Regions from separate parts of the Homo sapiens genome. Here region 2 is linked to region 1. The links come from fine-mapping of genetic effects on gene expression. Tissue or cell type: blood mononuclear cells. Region 1 holds a variant in brackets; the other region holds the start of a gene. All regions are shown on one strand. Distances are from middle to middle.

The links. PIP is the estimated chance that this variant, and not a neighbour inherited with it, causes the effect.
Region 2: IFT74 starts here. The variant in region 1 is fine-mapped to the expression of IFT74 in blood mononuclear cells (TOPMed, PIP 0.97).

The regions. Positions count from the first base shown.
Region 1 is chr9:26,985,488-26,990,639 of GRCh38, forward strand. IFT74 (intraflagellar transport 74) reads left to right here. Exons shown (of 20, transcript NM_025103.4): 7 at 3,182-3,241; 8 at 4,647-4,708. Among named protein-coding and RNA genes, the nearest start is that of LRRC19, 18 kb to the right of the region's middle. The variant T/A (reference allele first, on the strand shown) is at 3,131.
Region 2 is chr9:26,953,999-26,959,150 of GRCh38, forward strand. IFT74 (intraflagellar transport 74) reads left to right here and starts at 2,414. Exons shown (of 20, transcript NM_025103.4): 1 at 2,414-2,518. It overlaps IFT74-AS1 (IFT74 antisense RNA 1), which reads right to left and starts at 2,309. Exons shown (of 2, transcript NR_121605.1): 1 at 2,129-2,309; 2 at 1,782-2,017. RefSeq lists enhancers at 1,626-2,361, 2,362-3,096 and a silencer at 3,693-3,987.

The DNA of each region.
Region 1 (5,152 bases):
ATATATTTATTAATTTATTATTTAAAATACCAAATAGTACATGAATACATACTTATTGGGAAAGATGAAACCATAAAAATTACAACAAATAAAGTATCCCTTTACTTTCTGCTTCATTTCCCTCCCCAGAAATAACTTGGCTTAACAGATTAATATATATTCTTCCATTGTTTTTTGTAAAATACGTTTACTGACACATACACAAATGCACACATGCTTTTCTCCCTAAAATATGTTAAAATAATAATTTAAATAATTTTAAAAGTGGCTAAAATGTATTGGTCCTATCAGTGATCATTGCTTTAAAAACACATTTTTTATCAAGTGTTGTCATCTTGAAAATTTTGAAATTTAATTATTAAACATACAGATTTCCACCATCTTGATGTTTTACTCGAAATATTGTGTACATTGTCAAAATAGAGTATATAACATGATATAGTTCCACTAAAGATGCTTCTACCTGTGGACTTTCAGAAGAAACAGTCCCCCTGGCAATATTGATAACTGCTCAGTCCTTGGGTGATATTGGCCCCATGAAAATTTCTAGTGTCAGAATTTTCTTTTTTCTAACTCTTTAGTTGCTTTAGGAGCAGTGATGTCTGGATTTAATGAAAAAGTCAAATTTTTATCTCACTACCCTTATTAAGAAATAGTGTTACAAGAAATAAACATTCTATCATAATGGTTAGGATAAGATAAGTTATGATATACCTACTTGATAGTGTTACCTTGTGCTTATCAAAAATTTTGCTAATTATAGTATAACTTTTTATTTTTGTTTTTGTTGTTGTTACTGGTGGTGGTGGTGGGTTTTGTTTTTTGTTTTTTTGTTGTTTTTTTTTTTCAAGACAGTCTTGCTCTGTTGCCCAAGCTGGAATGCAGTGGCTCAATCATGGCTCGCTGCAGCCTAGACTTTCTGAGCTCAATTGATCCTCCCACCTAAGCCTCCCAAGCAGCTGGGACTACAGGCACATGCCATCACACCAGGCTAATTTTTTGTATTTTTTGTTGAGATGAGATTTGGCCTTGTTGCCCATACTGGTCTCAAACTCATGGGCTCAAGTGATCTGCCCACCTTGGTCTCCCAAAGTGCTGGGATTACAGGCTTGAGTCATTGTGCCTGGACTATTTTTATTTTTTAATTTTTTTAGAGATAGGGTCTTGCTCTGTTGCTCTGGCTGAAGTGCAGTAGCATGATTGTAGTTCACTGCAGCCTCAAACTCCTGGGCACAAGTGGTCTTCCTGCATCAGCCTCCCAAGTAGCTGGGACTACAGGTGCATGCCAGCATGCCTGGCTAATTTTTAAATTTTTTGGAGAGATGGGGACTTGCTGTGTTGCCCACAATGGTCTTGAACTCCTGGGCTCAAGTGATCCTCCTGCTTCAGCTTCCCAAAGTGCTGGGATTATAAGCATGAGCCATTGCACCCAGCCCTCTTATAATTCTTAAATTTCCTGGACTACACAATTCATCACAAACATTTTGTAGAGCCCATTATTCACTGGGATTTTCTTTAGTAAATGATGTTCTGTTTTAAATGTGAGCAAAATAGTTTTTTTTTGTTTTTTTGTTCTTCTTGAGATGGAGTCTCGCTCTGTCATCCAGGCCGGAGTGCAGTGGCGTGATCTTGGCTCACTGTAACCTCCGCCTCTTGGGTTCAAGTGATTATCCTGCTTCAGCCTCCTGAGTAGCTGGGATTACAGGCGCTTGCCACCAGCTGGGATTACAGGTGCGGTCCTGAGTAGCTGGGATTACAGGTGCCTGGGTAATATTTGTATTTTTAGTAGAGAAGGGGTTTCACCATGTTGGCCAGGCTGATCTCAAACTCCTGACCTCGTGATCCACCCGCCTCAGCCTCCCAAAGTGTGGGGATTGCAGGCATGAGCCACCGCGCCCGGCCGAGAAAAGTAGTTTTTAAAGGTATGAAATGACATGAGATGAAAGGGAGTTTTAGTTATGCTGGAACAAATTAGGCATATTCATATAAAAATACTACCATATAAAATATGCTATTTATAGATTTAATGAGCTAATATCTGATACAGAGCAGTTAGCTGTGTATCTGACATATAGTTAGCACTCAATAAATGTTAGGCCTTATTAGCACTTATTATTTATATCATAAATGAAAAATGTGATATACCTTACACCCAAATAGTTTGCTTTTAGTAGACCTTCTGTTCACATTCTGGCTCTATCGCTTGCTAAATTTCTTTTTCTGTAAAATGTGTACAATCATATCTACTTCATACAGTAATTGTAAAAATTGAGTTAACACATATGTAATAGTGTTTGACACTAGGTAAATATCCTATGTTGACAACTGATATCCTTGCCTAACTTTTTGAAGTAGACTTACTACTGTTCCATCTGTGCAAGCCCTGTTGATTTTTTTTTAATTATTAGAAGATAAAGAATATCTTTTTATGTTTTTACTAGTGTAAATTTGTTTTTTGTTGTTGTTGTTGTTGTTGTTTTTTGAGACGGAATTTCACTTTTGTTGCCCAGGCTGGAGTGCAGTGGTGCCATCTCGGCTCACCGCAACCTCTGCTTCCCGGGTTCAAGCGATTCTCCTGCCTCAGTCTCTCTAGTAGCTGGGATTACAGGCATGTGCCACCACACCCGGCTAATTTTGTATTTTTAGTAGAGACAGGGTTTCTCCATGTTGGTCAGGCTGTTCTTGAACTCCTGACCTCAGGTGATCCGCCCGCGTCAGCCTCCCAAAGTGCTGGGATTACAGGCCTGAGCCACCGAGCCCGGCTTACTAGTGTAAATTTGTAAATCTACTAACATTCCTCTCTCCTTGGGGATGTTGGCAGGGGAAGAGAGGGTGATAGATCTTTCCAAAACTCTCGTCTGTTCCAAACCCTTATTTATAAGCTCAGCCATCTTTTCAGAGCAGGCAAAGCTCCACAAGATATAATATTCAGGAAGAGTTGTTTATTACTGCTCATTTATCCATGTTAAAAATGTGATTTGTTTATTGGCCAGGTGCATAATATATGCTTACTTAGGTAGCTCAATATTTGTTTTTATCTTAAAATAGAAAATATTCAAAAGTATTAATACTTAAGTTACTACTCATTATTTGTAAGACTGAATACCTATATTATTAATTATAGAGAACA[T/A]GTGTAAAGACTAACAAAATGGTGTTTGTTTGTTTGTATTTTTGTTTTTAGTTGGTAGATAAACTTAATACCAACACTGAAATGGAAGAAGTAATGAATGATTACAATATGGTAAGAAAATTTATAAAAGCAAATTGATCTATGTAAGTCATATCCTACAAAACAAAGCATTTATATCTAGAAATAGTTTGATAAAACCTTAAGTGCTATAGAGGTGAATATTACTCTGATTGTAAATACCACTATTAGGTATTCCTTGAGCTCCCTTAGTTGCTCTTTTAAATTTTCTTCCTGTTGATTGGCTTTCCTAAGTGGGTGTTTAGTGACTGTCTACTGTGTTTGAACTGGTGTCACGTGCAACATTAGTTAGGGAGTGCCATCTCCATTTCCTTATATATATTAGTTTACAGTATTTCTGGCTTAGTTTAAGCACAAATGTTGATGAATACTCAATGTGACAAATGATAACTTTACATAGTTTTTGTCACCAGTGGAGAAAAATGAATAGATATGACTCCAGACATAAAATATTAATTTTTGATTGGTAAATGAGAATCTGTGTTTAACATGGACATAACACTGGGGACTCCAAAAAGGGGGATGGTAGGAGGGCAATAAGGGTGGAAAAATTACCTAGCAGGTACAGTGTTCATTATTTGGGTGATGGGTTCACTAGAAGCCCAAACCTTACCGTTATACAATATATCCATGCAACAAACCTGCACATGTACCTCTGATTCTAAAATAAAAACAAATTTGTATTCAATGTTCTTAGATTAATTGTTTGGTAGAAAACAATAAAATATGTTAATAGCTAGCTTATTTTGATTATAAGCATTTGGATGAAAATAACATACAATTTATAATTTATATAGTTTATAATTTATTTACATGAGTAAAGACTGTTCTATGAAGACATAGGATTGATAAAATGACTCTTCTAAATTTGGGGTTCTCAAACCATGATAATTTAGTTACTTTTAGCTTTAGAACACAAGAGAATTCACTAATTAAGAATCTTATTTCAATGCCAGATATAAAAAGTAAAAACCTTATGTGTTTTGTCAGTTGTTTGGGATGGGGGGTCTGTTTTCTAGGCTGGGTGTGCACAGGTAGAGTTAATTAGGTGTACTCAGATAATATCCTGAATGGTTCAGGAATAAAACTTGTGGTGGTTCTAAATTTAACATATTACTAATCAAATATTTATTGAACACTCAATATATTCTTTGAATGCTGTTTACATAAATTGAATTTACATTGAATTATTTGACAGATCACTGAAGAACAATGAATATTTTTGGTATAAGATTACAATGCTTCTTAAAAAGACTTTTTAAAAATCTGATATTGTTTGTTAAATGAGGCAATTACTTTATTTTTCTTCTTAAACTTTGTATGTGGCACTAGGATAATTATAGTAATTTCTCATTTAGTTCCTAGCCAAAATAACCTACAAAGAAAAAATTTGGTTTAATATTTATTTCTTACTAACTTATGTGTTAACTTTATTCAGCTTAAAGCTCAAAATGATCGAGAAACACAAAGTTTGGATGTCATATTTACTGAAAGACAAGCGTAAGTATAGCTAATTTAAAAATTAGATTCATAAGTAAGCTTTATTAGGTAGTTTAAGTTGTGATCCAGTTATTTCCTTGTAAATTTTCTTAACAATTTCCCCATTGCCTTTTTCATTTAAAAATATTTACAACACAAATTTTGTTGCTTATACTTGTTATCTTCATTTACCATTAAATACCTAAATTCTGTATAAAGACTATTGCTACATAGCTTATATAAATAGGATTTATGCTGCTAGCAGCTGAACACTTATGATGGATAAGAACATCTTTATATCTACTATTTTTGGTTTTAACCTGGGCTTTTAACTAATTTGAATTTTGGTGTTTCATCCCCAATCTAGTGAAAGACACATTATTCATTAGGAAGCTATTTACATTATTTCATTAGCATTGATATTTAATAGTTATATTAGCAATCTACGTCATATATAGATTGTAT
Region 2 (5,152 bases), 31 kb before region 1:
TACTCCCTCATTCTCCCTTTAAAACATCCAATCACTGCTGTACAAATCAAGGTTGAATTCCTTTCACATTGGACTATTTTCCCTATTGCAGTAGTAAATTATGGATAAAAATGTGTCCCTACTGTCAGGGTTTGTTATCTTTGACAACAAAAATAAACATATAACTGCAAGTTATAATGAGTGATATGTAGTGTTAAAATAATTAAATTGGAGGCCATTAGACTGAAGTCGCTCTAATGCACTGAGTTCCTACATGAGGAAACTGAAACTTAAAACGGAATCACAAGTGGCCAACTAGTCATCAGTTATATCGTCTTGAACTTCCCACAAGAACAGTCCAAATAAGGCAACTGCTCAAACTTTAACCAGTCAAATAATTTCTTTGCTGTGCTCTGCATTTACTCTCTGAAAGCTTTCAACTACCTCTGGGGGAGCCCCAAACCACTTATGATTTGGAGCTGCCTAATTCATGAATTGCTGTCTGTTCAAATAAGCTCTTTAAAATTTTAATGTGCCAAAGTTTACCTTTTAACAGATAGGAATAGTACAGGGTGCACTGAGGACATATAATGAGGTGGGGGGCCAGAAGGAGTTGGAGCACTAATCTAGTATGGACTGGCAGAGAAGACCTCTCTAATAAAAGACATTTGGGTTAAGACCTGAATGATGAACAGGACTTTGGACAGTGAAAAGCAGAGGGACAAAGATTCCAGGAAGAGAGAATTGCAGTGAAAAGGACTAGAGACAGAAAGGAACTTGAAACACAAGTAGTCTTACAATAAACTTAAAATTTGACATAACCTAATTACTAACCAAATTACAACTTGATATAACCTAATTCCAATTTGATATAACCTTAAAAGCAACAGAACCTAATACATAATGATCCAAAGTCAAATAAGATATGGTGCCTACTCTAAGGAAGCTCAGAGGCAAATAAGTGAGATGTATTCCTATTCTCTATTCCTTTTTCATCATGAAAAAGAAATGGGGACAGGGATCAATACTTACTACCTAAATGAGCTTAAGCAAATTATTTAATCTCTTTAAAACTTGGATAATAGTATCTGTCCTGCCAATTTCAACTGTTAATATCTGTCAGGGTCCTTAAGTGCAAGGAACAGAAATCATCTATAAATGATATAAAAGCTGAAAATGAATTTATTAAAGGACATTAAGCAGCTCACAGACTCTCCCAGAAGCTGAAGAAACAAGCTAGAGGTTCTCCTCCCAATAAAGCCTCTGAGTACCTAACACTGCAGCTTGCAACAACACACTGATGCTGGACACTGGTTGCTGGTGATAGAACATTGCAGTCTCGGAAACGATGTAGTTACTGCGGCTGTCACCCTTACTTCAACAGACTCTCTGAAGTCCTGCTTCTGGTTGTCATTCAAGTTTGAGTTGAGTCCACCAAATTAGATTGGAGAGTCTAGCAAGCAATAATACTCATGTCCCAGTAATAAGGAAGACTAGGAAAGCCAGTATCTGTCACTTTCAGTTCCTGTAAGGGTGTTGGGGGGCAGGGTAAGGGAGAAACTCTGCCAAAAGGATGACAAATGGCCACTGCAAATAGGGTGAGCTCAAATGAGATAATTACATGAAAATGTTTCACAAACTAAGGGAGAATTCAGCCACATAACATTATCTCATTTTGTGTTGTATTGATTTTTAACTCCTCGAAGGCAGGCAAGTTGGAAATAATGTGTAAAATAATGTTAAAATCCCAATACATATGCAATCACATTTAAGCTGTTATCAATGAAGATTGGAAGGAAACATACAGTAAAAGTTATTTTATTAGAGAAGTGGGATTTAAGGTGAAGTAGTTCTTAAATTAAAAAAAAAAAAAAAAAGGACACTTTCCATTGAATTCACAGTCTTCCCCACAAACTTGGATCCAAATTCTAATGAAAGGAAGCTTAAAGACGCAAAGCTTCTGGTGAAAGCAGGAACGGAACAGTTGGTGCCAGAATCGCATCCATACTTCATGATGCGTTGTGTACGCTATGCCGTCCTAATAGGAAGGAAAACTACCACAAATTAGGAGTTTAGAAAATTGCACAATGCTGCCTACCACTTAACTTCAAATGTAACCTGTTAACAACGTTAGCCGACGTGAGGTTACCTAGGGACATAGCAAAACTCGCTAGAGTTACTTCAAGTAAGGCACACGGAGGTTGCTCTGATTATCAAGAAAACCAAACGTTCACATAAAATGTTTGTCTTCCAGCCGCCCCGCTGTTTTCCACTTTTTCCAAAAAGCACTGAAGCGTGGTGAAGAAACAAACATATCCTCAATTCTCGCGAGAGCTCCGTGTGTAACCAAGGGCTGAGGCGGAGGATTGGTCACTCAGGATGAGGAGCCTCCGCTATCCCGCCCCCGTTGCCGGGATACGCCGCGGCGCACGGCAGTTAGTGGGTAGGCCTGAGAGCCGAGGAAAACTGAGCGTGGGCCTCAGAAAGAAGTTAAGGCACCCGCGAGCCGGGCAACTGCCCTCCTTCCGCGCCGGCGGAGGTGAGAATCCCCGGGTCCCATCTCTTCCTCCCTCCCTCCCACGTCTGTTCTCTTGCCTTGGAGATGCTGATCCGCTCCAAACAAAACAAATTCAAACTCGGTCTTAGCTAACTGTTACCGTCGGGCCTGTAGCCAGGCCAGGCATGTACCAATTCTAGTCGAGCGAAGGTTGCGAACAGACCTCCTCCAACAGCCCGACCCCTCCCCGACCCCCCGCAGGAGACCCGCCAAGCACAGAGCAGAGGGAAGGACCGCGATGGGCTGAAGGATTTTAGTCAAAGCAATACATTTCTGCCTCTTACAGTGGAAGGGACTTATTTCTGTCTGTTGATCACAGTGCGGGCAGTTAGCAACTTTCCACTTATTCACCTGTGTGAGAATGGTTGGCTTAGGGAGGATAACGATAGTAATAATAATTAGAAGCAGATGTTTTAAATGTAATACTTATCGTCTTCACAACAGCCCTGCAAGGTAGATGTCACCCTTCTGTTTTACAGAAGATGAAATCCTGAGGGGTTAATTAAGGTGGCAAGATTATGCAGCCGCTAACTTTGTCAGCACTAGTTTGTATCGCTAATCATTCTGGATCCAAAGGCCAGGCTGCCTCTCTGTGTGAATAATTGGAAATTGTGTGACTCTTTGATTGAATAACCCCGAAGTTAGTGGTATATTTGTTGCTAATGCCCGCCTCTTAATCCCACTGGTAATAATATAATGGTAAGCTTTTTTTCACCACAGTAAAACGGTGGCAAAGAAAATTGGGTGAAATTTTTTATGTTGTACATTTTCTCAAAGTTAGCAGGAAACCTAGAGTAATATCTTTTCCACTGGAAAGAGATGTTTATTGTACTCGTTTTCTTCTGGAAAAACCATTTTGATCATACACCGTCTTCCTTTTCAAAGAGTCATTTCATGAAATTCCTTTTTCCATTTGAAATTCTTTTGCTTTGTACATAGAGTTCAAAATGGCAAGGAATTAGAATCAGGGAGCTAGTGGGGTCAGGAAGATTGATGTGAACATATTCAAATGAGATATCTGAATGGAAATTTCAGATAAACAATTGAAAACTCAAAATTGGTGCCCAGTTGAAAGGGCAGAACTGTAGACATTGATTAGTGAGCCGTACACATAGTTGGAGTTATAAAGATGCATGACTGTAGAAAGGATAGAAGCAGTCCAAGGACTGATTACGAGTAATGCTAAGAAAAGTCAGAAAAGTAGTACTGGACATAGAGTGTAGAAACAGAGAAATCATTTTAGTCCAACACACGCTTTGTTTGCCTTTTTTTTTTTTGAGACGGAGTCTTGCTCAGTCGCCCAGGCTGGAGTGCAGTGGCGCGATCTCGGCTCACTGCAAGCTCCGCCTCCTGGGACTACGCCCGCCACCACGCCCGGATAATTTTTTTTTTGTATTTTTAGTAGAGATAGGGTTTCACTATGTTAGCCAGGATGGTCTCCATCTCCTGATCTCGTGATCCACCCGCCTCGGCCTCCCAAAGTTCTGGGATTACAGGCGTGAGCCACCGCTCCCGGTCGCTTTGTTTGCTTTTTAACAATTTAGTAAATTTTTGTAATTGGCAATACCTTTATGTACGAGGAAATTTAAAAGATACAAGAGAGAACAAAGTTTTTGCTTATCACTGAGACAGATTTTGGGGATATAAAGATGATTAAGATTCAGCTCTTGCCATAAAGGGTGAGAAATACTTAAGCAGATCATTTCAAGTGGTGTGATAGGTTCTGGAATAAAGTAATACACAGGATGCATGGTAGCATGTAGAACAGGCCTATACACTGAAATTGAAGAAGACGAAGATTCCAAGACCAGTTATGGACTGGTCATGGAAGGATTCCCAGAGAAAGTAATAGGCAAAATGTGTGTTAGGCAAGGGGACCACTTAAGAGGCTGGTATAATAGTCCACCTGAGTCAGTGATGCCCTGAATTGGCCAGTGCTGTAGGAATAGAGAGTAAAGTACCTGTTAAACACTTAGGAACAAAATCAGTAGAACTAAACAAAACAAACTCAGTAGAACTATGTGACCAGCCATGGGAGTAAGGGAGAGGAAGATGTCAAGGACTAAATTTCTTACTTGTGTGACTAGGAGGTGACACCAAGAGGAAGGACAAATTTTGAGCAGATGATAATGAGTTTGGATTACATATGTTTATTTTGAAATATTTAGACATCTAAGTGGAGATGTTATTATTTGGATATAAACACCGCAAGCTGAGTGCTAAAATAAGGAAGTTGTGTGGAATCAGTTTATTAATTGTTAAAACCCTGAGTGTGGATAAGGGGGCCCAAGGGGAGTTTAGAGAGAGAAAAGAAAAAGATGGTGGATGGTATCTTAGAAAATGCTCTATATAAGGACAGATCAAGGAGACAGAAAAAAGAACCAGAAGAGAGGGAAGTGTCATGGAGATGTTTCATATAAATGTGGACACCAGTAAAGTAGGATGACATTTACAGCACTGGCAATATTGGCAGGGGTCATTTGAATCAAACGGTAGCAATCCAGGAGATACTGGGAAATGAAGCAGTAGAAAATAGTGGATATAAGCTATTCTTTTTGTTGTTGTTGTTGTTGTTGTTGTTGTTGTTGTTTTGAGACGGAGTCTCGCTCTGTCGCC